2 separate regions of the Homo sapiens genome follow, and region 1 is linked to region 2. Evidence: fine-mapped expression QTL. Tissue or cell type: whole blood. Region 2 holds a variant in brackets; the other region holds the start of a gene. All regions are shown on one strand. Distances are from middle to middle.

Region 1 (8,148 bases), 59 kb after region 2:
AAGTATATAAGAGCTACTAAATGAGACCAATAGTCTATCTAGTCCAATATTCTAATATATTGCTAACTTACTTGAATGTATGGAATGCTTTTCTATCAAAAGCTGACATTTATGATACTTTTAATGCACCTTTTGAAAACGGCAGCTGAGGCTTAGTGATTGCTTTAGTCTGCTCAGGAGGATATAAGAAAATACTGTAGACTGGGTGGCTTAAAAAACAGAAATTTATTTTTGTGCTCTTCTGGGGGCTGGAAGGCACCATTGGGTTCTGATGAGGGCCCTCTTCCTGGCTTGCACAGGGCTGCCTTCTTGCTGTGTGATCACCTGGCCTTTCCTTGGTGCATGCTCACGGCAAGACAGAACTCTGGTATCTCTTGCTCTTCTTATAAGGACTTTGATCCCAGTATGGAGGCCCACCTTCATAATCTCATCTAAATCTAATTACCTCCCAAAGATCCCACTCCTAAACACCATCACATGGGGGGAGTTTAAGCTTCAACATATGAATTTTGGGGAGACACAAAACATTTAGTCCGTAATAGAGATTAAATCACTTTTCTATAGGTACTTAAATAATCCACCTGCGGGGCAAATGCTGACTCCAAATACTGTTTTCTTTTCCCTAATCATTTGTCTTTGTTGCTTTTTATACCTAGGTACTCAAATAATTAGTCCTTTACAAAGCGAGATGCTGCTAGTTCTCATTGATTGTCTCTGATGTATCCTCAAAACATGAATCATCTTTTAATGATCATTTTTCATATATGTTTATCCATGTTTCTTAACTGTTTTAGTGAAAGCAAACAATATAAGGTCTCTCTCTCTCTTGCTCTCACTCTTGCTCTTTAAAGTTTCTCACAACAACAAAAGGAAAAAAAGAAAAGGAAAACCTGGGCTCTTGGTGCTTCTGGCAATTATATTCAAACACAAGAAGCACCCAGATTGTAATTCTGATAAGTATTTCAGTTCTTTCTTGAAAAATTAAATTCACAAAACAATTGATTATCAGTTATAAATGGCAAAAACACCATCTGGTTTTCAAAATTGGTTAAATCCATGTAGCAAAGGGGAAAATTTTGGAACTTGTAGTTGGCGAGGAGTTCTAGTCCATGAAGCAGAAAATGACGAGCTTTACTATGAGAAAGCCAGAGTAGTCATAACTTGTACTTAGCGGCTGCGGGAATTTGATGCGTTCTTCACATGTTCCATATGTTAAATTGCTTGGCGAGATCTTCAGTGTGAAGGAGCTGGGGGTAGGAAAGGCGTGTGGCTAGTGGATAGACTAGAAACAGCTTAATCCTAAATTCTCTGCTCTGCTTCTTGCATGTAGACCCAGTCTAAATGTGCCCCAGGACTCAGTTTCTTTACCTGGGGAATTGTACGTGCAAGTTCCTTAACCTTATGGCACAGGGGACATTTTGGTGGAAATTTCTAAAGCTATTTGCATTCCTCTAGTGAGGTAAATCATACGACATTAGCATTTCCTACAGAAATGTCCCATGTTGTTCTTTGCCAACTGGAAATTTGAGTAGGTGTTCATTTGATGTGCCAAGAGAATGAAGGGAGATGAAAACACCCTACATCTTCCAATGTCCCCATACTGTGTTCCGAGTGTGGGAGGACTGGGGCCTGGCTAGATTCTCCTGGAGATTCAGCTTCATGAGGAATGTTTTTCCTTAGGAGTATACTGCAATTCTGTTAGTTAAAAAAAAAAATGTTTCTGGGTTGCTGGCATATTTTCATCTTATGTTAAAAATGTAGCTATCCTTTGCTTATTATTCATGCATTGTAATGTGAAATTTATTCATTCACTTTACGGATATTTAGAAAGGCACAGTGGTTAATTGCATAGGCTCTTTCTGCAAGTTAGAGACTGTAATCTTAGGGCAGTTACTTAATCTTTCTAATCATGTTTAAAAAATATAAAATGAAAGATAATAGTATGTACCTTGGGGATTGTTTCAAGTATTAAATGAGATTTTGCATGTAGAATACTTAAGAATTCAGTGAATGCAAGAGTAGTAATAATAGTAACGGCAGATAATAATGTTACTATGTGCCAGGCTCTGTGTCAGGATTCTTGCCATATAGGACCTGCCTTTATAGTTTACATATCACTTTCAGCATACATATGGCCTTACTTTTTTTTTTTTGAGACGGAGTTTCACTCTTGTCGCCCAGGCTGGAGTGCAATGATGCGATCTCAGCTCACTGCAACCTCCGCCTCCTGGGTTCAAGTGATCCTCCTGCCTGAGCCTCCTGAGTAGCTGGGATTACAGGTGTGTGTCATCACGCCTGGCTAATTTTTGTATTTTTATTAGAGACGGAGTTTCGCCGTGTTGGCCAGGTTGATCTCGAACTCCTGACCTCAGGTGATCCATCTGCCTCAACCTCCCAAAGTGCTGGGATTACAGGCATCAGTCAGCGTGCCCGGCTGGCCTTAACTTTTTTATTCCAATTTTGGTGGAACTTTGCTCTCTATTTGGTCCGACCCAGGTACCTCACTGCCAGAGGTAGTAAGAACGGGTAGGACTTTGCAGACTGGGCATTATCCTGGCACCCACGTGGCAATGGTTTCCTGTCTCCTGTAGTGCTGTTCTCCTGTTGGAGCTTTCCCCACTTCTGAAGGACTGCCTGCAGTTCATGCATCGGGGCCTGTAATTACAGAGCAGAATATCCAGGGCTGTGAAGACCGGGCAGTCTCGAAATTAGTTTATGCATAATGGATAATAGGAGGCTGTTTTTAAGTGTAACTCATTTGGTGGGTTGGCAGATCATGACTTCCTTTTTGATATGTATTATTTATTTATTTTATAGCAAGATGAGGACAGAAGGCTGGGGAAGTCATTTGGCGCAGCTCTTCTAGACTATAGCTCAGACTTAGCAATTTACATTCAGTAATCTCTTGGTCATTTAGCCACAGATAATTTGTCATGGTTTGTTTTAGCTGTTGTGATATTGATATTTATTATGCAAATTGTATTTCCTACATCTTATTGTTCTGCATTCTATGAATACTTAAATTATTATAAACCTTTACACTTAATATGGCTCGTCCTTCAATTTGATGCTTGAGCAACAGAGGGTCAGAGCGCACACGATCTTCTAGAGGGGAAGAAAATAAGTAATTAAAAAGCAGACAAACAAGAGAGCCGGCTGCCTGGCTGAAAAGAAAGCAAAGAGAATTTCGGGGAGGGAGAGTGAGTCCGGAGATGCAAGTCGCTTTAGCAGGAGAGGCTCTCCCAGAGACAGGGGAAGCTCGGAGCACCTGTTGGTCCCCAGCTTCCTTAGGAAGGGCTGGGGGCGCAGAGGAGGAGTGAGAGGGTTTGAGCCCCGAAGGAGGAACACGGCAGACCCTGCCTTCACCACACTCCCTCTCCCCAACTCCCACCACCCCCGCTCTTCACCTGAAGCCTTGACTAATTTTTTCCGTTGTTGTGTAATCTTAAATATCTAATATTACAAATATTTCACACATATATTCAACACACACCTATATATTAAAACCAGGGAGGAGACCCTCGACAAGCGGAGGAGCCTGAGCATACCCTCCTCGATCTACCTTTCCCGAGATTCTGCCGCAAAAAGACCGACTGGAAAATCTCAGAACCCGACTCTACGGCTGCCTTCTCCAACTATCCCCGAGTCTACCGCTAGGCTGTTGAGCGGGCTCTCCCGCTCCGCCGGACGTGCAAAGCACGCATGCACTTCTCCCAGATTGTTTTGTCAATCCGGGGACCTGCCTTCTTACTCTCCACTCCCGCACAGCCCCCGTTCCCAAAGATCTATTCCTTCGGTGCAAGGTGAGTGACGGAAATTTGCAACGTCTGGTTCGCTAGGCCAGATGCACTCGGTGTGCGGGACAGAGGACCCTCTTAAGGGAGATTCTCCAGTCGTCGGTCTGATACAGCGATTGCTATAAACATTCCTAATAAAGGTGTACAAGAAGCTAGACCCGCCCCCTGGAGCCCGAGTCCTTGCACGCCAGGCGCCCGGGAGAACACTTTTTCCTTGATCCGGGGAAAGCAAAACCCGAATTTTAACATAAACATATTTGCATACGCCCCTCCCCTTGGCCCCGCCCCTAGGTGGCGCGGGCGCGCCGCCGAACGCCAGCGCCAGGGGGCGGGGTGGGGGAGGGAGCGAGGCCCTCCGAGAGCCGGGTTGGGCTCGCGGCGCTGTGATTGGTCTGCCCGGACTCCGCCTCCAGCGCATGTCATTAGCATCTCATTAGCTGTCCGCTCGGGCTCCGGAGGCAGCCAACGCCGCCAGTCTGAGGCAGGTGCCCGACATGGCGAGTGTAGTGCTGCCGAGCGGATCCCAGTGTGCGGCGGCAGCGGCGGCGGCGGCGCCTCCCGGGCTCCGGCTCCGGCTTCTGCTGTTGCTCTTCTCCGCCGCGGCACTGATCCCCACAGGTAGGTGTGGGCACCGACCGGTTGGCCCCTAAATCTCCGAAGGCACCCCAGTAGCCTTGGCCACAGAGGGGGGAAACGTTTCCATGACAACCTCCCCCCACTTCCTACATCCGAAGCGGAGGGAGTGTGGAGAGGAAACTCAGGGCTGAGAGGGAAGGGGCTGAGGGCATCTGTGAGCCCCTTCTCCCCTGCCCGGCTAAGTGTGAATGAGAGTCCCCAGGGATGGCTGCACCCACACCTTCTCTCCCCGGCTTGGCGCGGGGTGCAGAGTGGAGTGAGAATGGGGGGCCCGGGGGCTGTAAAGCATGGGGGAAGGGGATGGTTCAAAGACAACCTCAACCCTTCCGGACCCTTCTAAACTCGCCGTTCTCCCCGTAACTTGCAGGTCCTCCCACCTCCCAGGGCTGTCCATTCGCCCCCACCTCTCCAGAGGGCCCCCCCAGTTCTCCATCCCCGAAGCCTCCTGGTGGCTGACTCCCAGCCGCCCGCGGCGTGATTTCTCCCCGGTCCCCAGGACATCCCCAGACTTGTCTGATCTCCCCTGCCCCTTCCCCCAACGCGCTCTGCCTTTCTCCCCTGTCCCCAAACTGCACGCCTCTCGTGTTTCCCTCCGGCCGTTCGCAGCCCTCCGCCCCCTCGGCTCTGCTGCGGGTCTTTTTGGCCCGGCTCCAGGCGGGGAAAGTTCCCCGGCCCGGCCCCGCGGGGGGGGCGGCCGCTGTCGCCGCCTCTGCGGGAAGGCGCCGGGAGCCCGCAGCCCGCCCGCCCCACAGCGTCCTCTGCCACGAGTGGGGACACGGGATTTCCCGGCTGCCCGTTCTTTCGGCGGCCCGAGGGTGGCGGAGGGGGCGTCGCGGCCTCTGCGGCCAGGCGGGCACCCTGCGGGCCTCCGCGCGCTCCCTGCGTGAAGAGCAGTCTTGGGAATTTGCCCAGGGGCGGCTCTGCACGCCCGGTGCCTTCCCTGAAGACACCGAGCACTCGGCTGGAGCCCGATGTGTGGCTGCCCGTGTGCCGGGCGCGTTGGCGCGGTCGGGAAAGAAGAGGGCAGTGTTTGCTTTTGCTAACAAAAGGGAGCCGGAGCTCTTCCTCAGCGGAGAGGCCGGCTGTGCTGCACCCAGCCTCCCTTCCCGCCACCTCGCCGCGCTTGGCAGCCGCGCGGCGTCCTCTGGCCCCTGCTGCAGGCTCCAGGCGGGCGCCGGGACCGAGTGGCACGGGGCCGCGGGGTGCGAGCGGCGATGCAGGAGGGGATGCAGCAGGGCTCTGAGCCTGCAAAGCCCCTCCTTGCAGCTCCAGAGCTGCAGGACCCGGGAGCAACAAGTGGCGGAGGACGCCGAGAGCTCAGCCCCCACCTGCGGAGCCCCAGGCCCGGGCGGGCACAGCGTTGGGGCCACGGTGCTGCTTCAGGGGCGCCTCTCCGCTTGGGCTGTGCCTTTTGTTTACACGCTAGAGGACACACAGTTATGTAAACACCGCAGGAGACACGCTGTAGGAGACGGGGGATGTGTGGGGGTGCTAGCTTGAGATTTGGGGGACGCCGGGTTGGCTGCTTGCCCCCAAAATAGGCTTGCAAAGGAGCTCGGCTTGGGAAACCTATTGGGGGGCGTCTGGCAGCAGCGTCAATTCCAGCGCTGAGGGTTTTTTTCCTCCATGCCACTGTCTCCGGATGTTGTTTATGTGTTTTTCCTCTGTGAATTCTTAATTTATGAGTTACGAGATAATTGGGTTCAGCCGATGCCGGTGTGGTTACAACTTCATTTCAGGTGATGCCTCTGACTGGATGGGTTCAATAAAATGTTCCTGAAAGAGATCCCTCGTGCTGCTGCATTGTAAAAAGCGCCAGTGTCAGTTAAACGTGAGCGTGAGTAAAGGCTCGGTAACTGGCGCATAATAGAGGCAACAATAGACTTGTATTGGCTGCAAAAAAAAAAAAAAAAAAAAAAAAAAAAGCCGGGGGGCGGTGGAAAGCTGTGGTCGGGGATATTGCTTTTTGACTAAAAATGGGAGTCGTGCAATGACGCTTGGCAGCAGAAGTAGGATTAGATTATGCCTCCCCTGTCAAGACTGCTCATTGAAGGCACCGGGTAGTAGCAACGGTACTATATTTGTAACTATCTCGCGGTGAGAAGTTGCCTTCCCTGCGAGGGATATATGCTGACTTAGGAGCGGTCTGGAACTCAACCGTGCATGTCAAAGCTACATGAAAATTCTGTTGCCAGTTACCATGGAAGCAGCTTCTTGCTCTTGTGTACATCCCTGTTTGTATGCTGGTTATCAGATTGTGTTCAAATTAGAAAGTAATTGGGTATGATTTGTAGTGAGGAGATGAGATGACTTTCTTAATTTTTTTCTCTTAATGCATATATATATATTTCGTGGTGAGTTTGAGAGGAGGTCTTGGCTCATTCCGGGGTCCCATACCCCAGGGGTAAATTTCAGGTGGGCACCAAGGGACTTTTCCTCCTCAGTTCTGTTTAAGCTTTCTCAGAGGCCTCCAGTTCCCACTCCCAGGGTTAAAGAAACCTGTTGGTGCATCTGACTTCATTAGGCTTGTTTCGTTTACATCCTTGCTGGGAAAGCGAATTAGGACCATCGTGCGTGGGTCCTGGTTCTGTTTTCTCCTGTAACTGAAGCCATCCATCCCCCGCAGAAAATCTCCTCTCATTTCTCCTGTGATGTTTGGATGAAATGGATGTTAATGAAATGCAGTAAAAATGGGTTTGCTTAAGCTCACTCCACAGTGTTAATCACGCCTGTTATACGTTCAAGGTGCATGCATGATGTTGTTTACGATCCCGAGTGAACCAGTAGCTGATCACCCCCCTCTTATCATTTTCAGGATTAGAGAAGATGGCTGGTGGATGGGGGATTTATGGTGGTGATGGGAAGGAGGGGGGCTGACTTTTGCTTGCTTTGGCCTGTTGGGGCTTGCAAACCGGGGATAGAGACTTTACAAAAGTGCCGCCCTGTTATTGTTGCCTTTCCCTGCATCAGATTGAATAGCCGCAGTAGGGACTTGCACTTGTCTGTGATAGATTTGATAAAATATCCCTCATTAATGCCACTTTATATTTACAGTGTGTCACTGGAGACGCACAAGGCTTCATTTAGTGACTTGTGTGACGAGACAAGCTTGCATTATTTGCCTGGGACGTTTTGGAGGAACAAGAGACCCATTGAGCAATCTTTTGAAATGAACAAATACGAAAAAGGGGGGGAATAAAAGAGCAGGCAGTTCTCTGGAACAAAGAGCTTTATTCATATGGATGTTGTACATGCTTTATCCAGTTTTCCCCAATGGCCCTCCTGGTAAAGGGGAGTGGGACAGGGAAGACGCCAACAGGCAGGACACTTTCGTTTCCTCTCTCACTTCCTGACTTCATATTCTTATCGGAGTTGGTCCCCGGCTCACTGCCTGCTCATCTCTCTCCACACTCTCTAAAATCCCAGAAGGTAACGGATTCCTGGGTCTCCACAGAGAGATTGTGAAATCCTTTCTTCCAGCTCTAAATTTCAACAGAAGACAATGCTAGCTACCTGTTGAGGTTGATGTTGTTGGAGGATATATTGGTTGAAGGGAAAGAGATGTCACTTTTCTATGACATGTGTCAAGAAGTGGTTGATAGTGAATGTCAGATTGGTAAGATGTCTTGCAATTATAACATTAGCCTTATTATTTATTTGGAAAGAAATGCTGTGAAAACCAGCATCCAAAAATTGTATTCTTATTGATGGTGCT
Region 2 (8,193 bases):
GTCTCAAGTCTGCCAGATGAGTTTCAGATTTCTAGAGTTTTCAAGTCTTGTTGAGTCTCTGTATTGTTTTCTTTAGTATACTTCTTTCCCTTTGTTTTCTGCAAATCCTGCTCACCCTAACAGCCGACCTTTCAAGAACTGGCCAATGCTCAGAGACAGCATTGCCTAAAAAAAAACCAAAAAAACAAAAAATAGTGACCGAATGTTTCAAAAGGTCTAGATATCCAGGGATGATAAAGGGCTTCTTTCCCATCTGTCTTTCCCTGCTGCCTGAGCATCCTCCCCCGGCCCGTGGGACCCTCCACCCAAGGCAACAGAACCCAGGCTGGTCTGGACTTGGCTGGGGGTAACCCTCATCCCCCAGATGGATCTAGAACACAAGGTTCCTCCTGTGGTTTCCCGGTGATGTCTAGAAGTTGTGTCTGCCCACAAAACTGTGCAGCTATAAGACTAGGTGCAGATCTGGTTGTGCAGAAAACAGTATGCAATCGCCACTGGCCTCGTCTGGGTGAAATAAGGGCCAAAACCACACAGCCATGTGTGTAGACTTCCTTTCCTTTCTCTTCTTTGTTCCTTTTCCTCCCTGTAAATGTTCTCTTTCCTGGACCTGGGGAGTCAGAGAAACCCAGCAAACTGTTATTTCCTTCAGCATTACAGCAACTTGTGCTCAGATTAGCCCTGCTGGTTTTAATGGGAACATCTGCAATTCCTGAAGCAGTCGGGTCCTTAGGATGTCAACCCCAGATCACATCACTGCAGGGTGTGCCTATCTCTGCCGATGTGGGCAGGGAGCAGCACCAGAGGGTGAGCTGGAGGAGGGAGTCACACACACTGGACTTTTGTCCTGGACTGTGTGTTAAAATAGGTACAATGTGAATCAAAGTGGAGACAAAAGGGGGAGGCTGCACTGTGTCCCAGTGTGAAGAAAACAGGCTGCTCTGAAGTTATCGCGTCTCTGAGTACAATGTAATTTCTTCTCGGGCAGTGCTCTGATAGCCTGACCAGCAGGGAGGGCTGGAAGTCGTGCAAGCCAGACAGAGGGAGAAGTCATGATGAGTGATATCGCAGTTCCAGGCACCGGACTCAGGTTTCCCCAGCCTTCATTTAGGGCACAAATCGCTGATCCAATCTTCAGCCAAAGCTTTCCCAAGGCCAGTCACACCTGCCTCTCTCCCTTCCCCTATGCCTTTTGCCTCTTTTGTCAGGACTATAAAGAATACCACCTGGGCATCTGAAGTTATAAGAAAATTCCCGCAAAGAATTTCAAAATATCCAGGGTCTCAAGAGCACAGGAAATATCCAGGCAATTCTCCTGTCCTGGGCAAGCCTCCACTCATATCCTCCCAGAAGTATGACACCCCCTTAGGTAAGAAACTCTTCAGGCCAGGCACGTGGCTCACTCCTATAATCCCAGCACTTTGGGAGTCCAGGGTAGGAGGACTGCTTGAGACCAAAAGCTCAAGACCAGGTTGGGCAATATAGTGAGACCCCCATCTCTACAAAAAATTTAAAAATTAGCCAGGCATGGTGGTGTGCATCTGTAGTCGCATCTACTTGGGAGGCTGAGGTGGGAGAATTGCTTGACCTTGGGAAGTTGAGGCTACAACAAGCCATAATGGTGCCCCTGCACTCCAGCCTGAGCCACAGAGTGAAACTGCATCCCAAAGAAAAAAAAGCCTTGAGAGAAAGACTCATCCACATCCCTCTGTGCCCCATTCTAACCTCCACCAAACCCCACAGCAACTTTTTTTTTTTTTTTTTTTGAGTCTCGCTCTGTTGCCCAGGTTTGAGGGCAGTGGTGCAATCTCAGCTCACTGCAACCTCCACCTCCTGGATTCAAGCAATCCTCTCACCTCAGCCTCCCGAGTAGCTGGAATTACAGGCGCCGGCCACCATACCTGGTTAACTTTTTTTTTATTTTTAGTAGAGACGGGGTTTCACCATGTTGGCCAGGCTAGTCTTGAACTCCTGACCTCAAGTGATCCACCCACCTTGGTCTCCCAAAGTGCTGGGATTACAGATGTGAGCCACTGCGCCCTGCCCCATTTCATCTTGAGTCCCTTCCCTACCATTCGCTCCCCAGAGGCCAGGAGCTGCCTCTCCTGAGTAGGTTCTCCCCCGACTCCCACACACCAACTTTCTACCACTTTTTACAGGGCCTGGAAATCTGGGGACTCCAGAAGGTGCAGCCGGCAACATCTATTGTTTAGAGAAGCCGAGACTAGGCTGAGTCAGGTAACCTGTGCAGGAGCAAGGTGTCATTTCGTTTTTCTAGGTCATTGTGTCTGTGTGGCCCTGGCCAGAAACCTGCCTTTCTTTCCCTGCCAGGTCACGAGGGAGGGAACACTCCTCTGCCGGCCGTGTCTCCAGGGTTCTTAGGGTGAACAGAAGGAAAGGCCCTGATTGACTTCCCCCTGCCCTCAGGGGTCTGAGGCTTGGAAGAGGCCTCCAGCATAGGCCTACGATTCCCATGTACTTTAGCAGGAAATGGGGTGTGGAACTTTTCAGGGATGAAGGAAGGGAGGGGCGTCCATTGTTTCTCATCTCCTGACCCCCAAAAGCTCTCAGTGGGGAAAATGGCTCCAATGTGGGGTGAAGGACTGTAGGGCTGAGCTGACAGGCAACTATGGATTGGCTGTGGACAGCCCACAATTTTTCTTAATTAGCCATGGCATCTTGCCCATCATGGAAATAAATAACAGGTGTCCCCTAAGGACAGCACATGAGAGGCGCCATTTATCGCCGTTCTGAGAGGAAACTGACAACATGACGGGTGACATAGCAGAAATAATGAAGAAAAATGGTAGTGGGCAAGGAAAGGCCCTGTCAGAGGAACCTTGCAATCAGTCCCCAAAGGGAAGACCCCTGCCCAGCACCCCTGGGAGGGCAGCACCTCCCCAGTGGGCCTGTTCTTCAGGCAAGAGTTCCATCTCCCATTAGCACTAGGCAGGCACCATACAGTAGCATTTCAGGGTCATTGGCAACCCCTCCTGTACCATCATGGGTCACTGCGGATGTGTGTCAGAGTCCCTGAAATGCCACTTTGAGAGTTTTATTATTTTAGATATTTCAAGTTCAGGCAACTCTAATTTGTCTGTGTGGATTATCTCTGCCAAACGTTAAGAGTGTAGGCCACTGATCTGCCACCTGACATCCTTCTGGTCATTCTCTCTAATAGGTGGTTGCTAGATCTAGTCTAAAGGTGAAGAGGGGTCCCTCTCCTGTCGAAAGCTCGTGTTTCCACCTGTGCTCAGCATCACATTTCTCTTCATTAGCCAGGCATAGTGGCATGCACCTGTGATACCAGCTACTTGGGAGACTGAGGCAGAAGGATTGCTTGAGCCCGGGAGTCTGAGACCCGTCTGGGTAATGTGGAGAGACCTCATCCCTAAAAATTAAAAAAAAAAAAAAGAATTAGCCTAGTGTGGTGTCACATGTCTGTGGTCACAGCTACTTGGGAGGCTGAGACAGGAGGATGACTTGAACTTAGGAGTTCAAGTCTGCAGAGAGCTGATTGCACCACTGCACTCCAGGCTGAGCAACACAGTGAGATCCCTATCTCCAAAAAGAAAAAAAGGAATTTCTCTTTATCATGAATCCCCTCTCTAACCTCGATACTTAACTCTTCCTGTCTACTTTCCTTGAAGAATCACATACACTAAAGTCTCTTCCATTAAAAAGAAAACAATCAAGCAGACTGTGATGGTTAATTTTGTAGCAACTCGACTGGATTAAGGGATGCCCAGATAGCCGGTAAAACATTATTCTGGGTTAGGGTGTTTCTGGAAGAGGTTAGCATTTGAATCATTAGACTGAGTAAAGATCTGTCCTCACCAACTTGTGAGCAGGCACCATTTAATCTGTTGAGGGTCCAAATAGAAAAACAACAAACAAACAAACAAACAAAAGGCAGAGAAAGGGTCAATTCTCTCTCTCTTCTTGAGTTGAGACAGCTATCTTCTCCTGCCCCCAAATAGAGGAGCTCCTGGTTTGCAGGCCTTCAGACTCAGACTGAATTACACCACCAGTTTTCCTAGTTCTCCAGCTCACAGATGGCAGGTTGCGGGACTTCTTGCTTTCATAATTGTGTCAGCCAATTCCCATAATAAATCTCCTCTTATATCTCTGTATATATCTATTGGTTCTGCTTCTTTGAAGAACCCTGACTAACACACCAGGCCTCCCTGTAGGCTACATTGCTCTTCAGCTACCACCTTCCACACCTCTTCCCTTCCCAGCCAGCTTTTTAAAAATGTCCTCACCTTCTTACTCCAAAATCCACACCAGTTTGACTTTTGCCCCAAACTGAAACATCTCTTTCCTAAATCACCAGTGATGTCTGTGACTAAAGCCCATGGACACTTTTCAGCCCTTATCTTATTCATCATTCCTCTTT[C/A]TTGAAATTCTTTCCTCCCTTGGCTTTGGAAAGGCTACATTTCTCAGGTTTTCTTTGTACTTCTTCTCAGACTCCATGGCAGCTCATTTTCTACTGCCTACAGCATAAATATTGGGAATCTTCCAGGCTCAAGACTCAGCTCCCCCTTCTCATTCTGCACTATCTTCCTAGGCAGACTCATGGATTCAATGACCTTAGGGGTCTCGATGATTCCCAAGTCTATGTCTGTAACCCAGTTTTCTCCCTTGAGTTCTATCACTGTAGATCTAATCTCTTACTGGAAACTCTCTGGGTATACTCTATAAGCACCTGACTTTGAACACATCTCAAACTGAATTTCTCTTCGTCTCTCTTTCACACTTATGTGCACGAATACACACTCATGTGTATTTTCCTGCCCTCAAATACAGGAGCTCCTGGTTCATAGGCCTTCAGACTCAGGCTGAATTACACCACCAGTTTTTCTGGTTCTCCAGCTCACAGATGGCAGGTTGTGGGACTTCTTGCTTCCACAATTGTGTCAGCCAATTCCCATAATAAATCTCCTCTTATATTTCTCTATATATCCTATGGGTTCTGCTTCTCTGGAGAACTCTGATTAATACACCAGGCCTCCCTATAGTCTACATTGCTCTTCAGCTACCACCTTTCACACCTCTTCCCTTCCCAGCATGAATGCATGCCCAGCCAAACCTGCTTAGGAATGGCAGCTTAACCTATCCTTACAAGGAACAATGAAGATAGCCATACAACTTTTACACTGCTTCATGTAGTCCTCAGTGCTTTGGGAGCAATTAGCCAAATTTTACTGGCTGGGACCTTGGGGTGGGCCCAATGAGTCTAGTATGTATATGCTTGTTGCCTATACAAAATTGGGCAAAGCCAAACACAGGTCTGAGAAGTTCAAAAGATGAGATGAGGTGAGGCCAAAGGGAAGGGGATACAGCATCCATGTTCCATCCATGTACGGCAAGCCCCTTGCAATGGGCAAAGGGATGTAGAGATGCAACCAATCCCAGGAAGAAAGACAGATAAGAAGCAGATGGCCTCCCAGAGACCCCATCATTGATGAGTTTCAGAGCAGCGGTCCCAGCTGCAAGGGGCTTAGTAATACCAGACAGAGAGCCCAGAAAATTATAGAGTGGGAGAAAATTACAGAGTGGTGCATCAAAGCAGAAGTCTTGGCCTATGGATTGAATAATAGTAGAAGCATAGGAAATGCCCTGACTAGGAGGTTTCTTGGGTACCCAGTGCTCATCCAAGCACACCAAATCCTGAGTGTCAGAGAACATAACTTAGTTCTCATCCTCACCAGATGATTGCACTGAAGTCCCTGCCCCAATCATGACTGCCTTAGAAACTAGGATGTGCCTGAGCCTCCAGTTCAGATCCCTTCAGGAAAAGGAGGGATGGGAGAAAACAAAGGCAGGATAATAAGTTGAAGAGGCTGGTAGCCTGTGTCCTATACAATGATTTATTTGTATGTATTTTGCACTGTGACTTCTGGGGGTCAGTTTTCTGTGGCAAGCTGGCCTTTTCTCTTTCTGGACCTGGTTTTGCACGTGGTGTTGCATGTTTGGGGAATGAGTAGACCAGGGTGGCCGAGGGTATTTTCTATGGAGCAGCAACAGTAGGGTGTTGTCCTACCAGAAGTTTTGATCTTGGACTCATTGATGGTCCAGAAGAGGCTTTCTAGTGTTTCAATTGAGGCCATTGAATACAACTGCAGGAAAAAATAGCCTTGGTGATGTAATAAATCTAAGCCAAATGCCTGCCAAGTATAGATACAGTGTGGATCTTTATGTGTTGCTTGAGGATGTCTTTTGTATGGGAATGAGGCTGTTCTCTAGCCTTCAAGTTTTCCTTCTGATGGTAACATAAAAGGGAGTCTGGAGAGGCTAAGATGGGAAAAAAAAATAGAAATAGGGAAGAGAAGAGATAAGTAGTACTACTTTATGTTTACTAAACTGCTACTGGATGTCAGGCTACTGCATAGATGCTAGAGAAAGAGTCTATGGTCAGGGAGTTCACAGATTTGGGGAAACAAATATGAAAATGAACCATATATATATACATACATATATATATATAGAGAGAGAGAGAGAGAGAGAGACGCAGTCTCGCTCTGTCACCCAGTCTGGAGTGTAGTGGCGCGATCTCACTCATTGTGACCTGTACCTCCCAGGCTCAAGTGAATCTCCTGCCTCAGCTTCCAGAGCAATGGGATTACTGGCACCCACCACCACACCTGGCTAATTTTTGTATTTTCAGTAGAGACAGGGTTACGTCATGTTGGCCAGGCTGGTTTCAAACTCCTGACCTTAGGTGATCCACCCACCTTGCCTTCCCAAAGTGCTGGGATTACAGGTGTGAGCCACCATGTCTGGCCACCTCTAATATTTTAATACTATGTGACAAATACACTCGTAAGAGTAATGATGATAATTGATACAGTCTGAGCACTTATTACAAACCAGGTGCCATGTGAAATGCTCTACATGCATTGTATTATTTAAACCTATCAATCCTATGAGCACGACGCCATTATTTCCATATTATAGATAAGAAAATTAAGGCTTCCGAAGGTCAGATAACTGATCTGGGATCACTCAGCTACAAGTCGAAGAGCCAAGATTCAAACCTATAACGTCTGAGTCTAGAGGTCATACAGTTAATGCCTCCACCTGCAGCTTACTCTAATTAGAGTAAAGCAGAGGAAAACACAGGGAAGAATGATCAACTCTTCCCAAAGAGCTCAAGGATGGCTTGAGAGATGATACTAGTTGAATCTTGATAAATCAAAAGGAGTTTACAGGATAGGGAAGGAGAGAAGAACACTTCAGGTGGAGAGAGAAGCATGAATAAAGCTAAAGTCTATTTGGAGCACTAGTCAGTGTGAGTACCCCAACGCACAAACACACTCACACACTCACTCAAAACTACATTTATATGCACACATGTACACACTCATTTGTGCATAAACGTGTGCACATATCACACATTCTTACACACAAATGCGCTTATTTCACACACACTTAACACATCAGTCAGACCCATGCACATGTACACATATGTGCACAAGCTCACTAAGTAAGCACACACAGGCCAGGCATGGTGGCTTATGCCTGTAAACCCAGCACTTTGAGAGGCCAAGGTGGGTGGATCATTTGCGGTCAGGAGTTCGAGACCAACCTGGCCAACATGGTGAAACCGTCTCTACTAAAAATACAAAAATTAGCCAGGTCGCAGTGGTGTGCACCTGTAATCCCAGCTACTTGGGAGGCTGAGGCAGGAGAATTGCTTGAGCCTGGGAGGCAGAGGTTGCGGTGAGCCAAGATCATGCCACTGCACTCCAGCCTGGGTGAGAGAGTGAAACCCTGTCTCAAAAAAAAAAAAAAAAAAAAAGTAAGCACACACACTTTACCAGCTCTGTGAGATGTCTACCTGAGGGGTGTATTCATTCCCATTCATCCTCTTTTCCAGTCTTCAACTCCAGTGGTCCAATAATAGTAAATGTTGTCCTTCACTGAGTGTCTCTGTTCTTCAGGAATTGTCCTATGTGCTCTCCATGCACTATCCCTAATGCTCACAAGAAAAGGCAGGTGTTGTGGTTCCATTTCACAGATGTGGTTATAGGGCCTCAGAACAGGCTCAGGATCTTCCCAGAGGCAACATAGTTCACCAGTGGCTTTAAACCCAAGCCCATCTGTTTCTAGAGCCTGAGCTCTTTAAGCCAGCGGTCACCAACCTTTCTGGTACCAGGGACCATTTTCGTGGAAGACAATTTTTCCACAGAC

What was found. PIP is the estimated chance that this variant, and not a neighbour inherited with it, causes the effect.
Region 1: it holds the start of CADM1, and the variant in region 2 is fine-mapped to the expression of CADM1 in whole blood (INTERVAL, PIP above 0.99).

The regions. Positions count from the first base shown.
Region 1 is chr11:115,500,538-115,508,685 of GRCh38, reverse strand. It overlaps CADM1 (cell adhesion molecule 1), which reads left to right and starts at 4,271. Exons shown (of 12, transcript NM_001301043.2): 1 at 4,271-4,415. The coding sequence starts at 4,292. RefSeq lists a silencer at 4,086-4,245.
Region 2 is chr11:115,559,175-115,567,367 of GRCh38, reverse strand. No RefSeq gene overlaps it. Among named protein-coding and RNA genes, the nearest start is that of CADM1, 59 kb to the right of the region's middle. The variant C/A (reference allele first, on the strand shown) is at 4,397.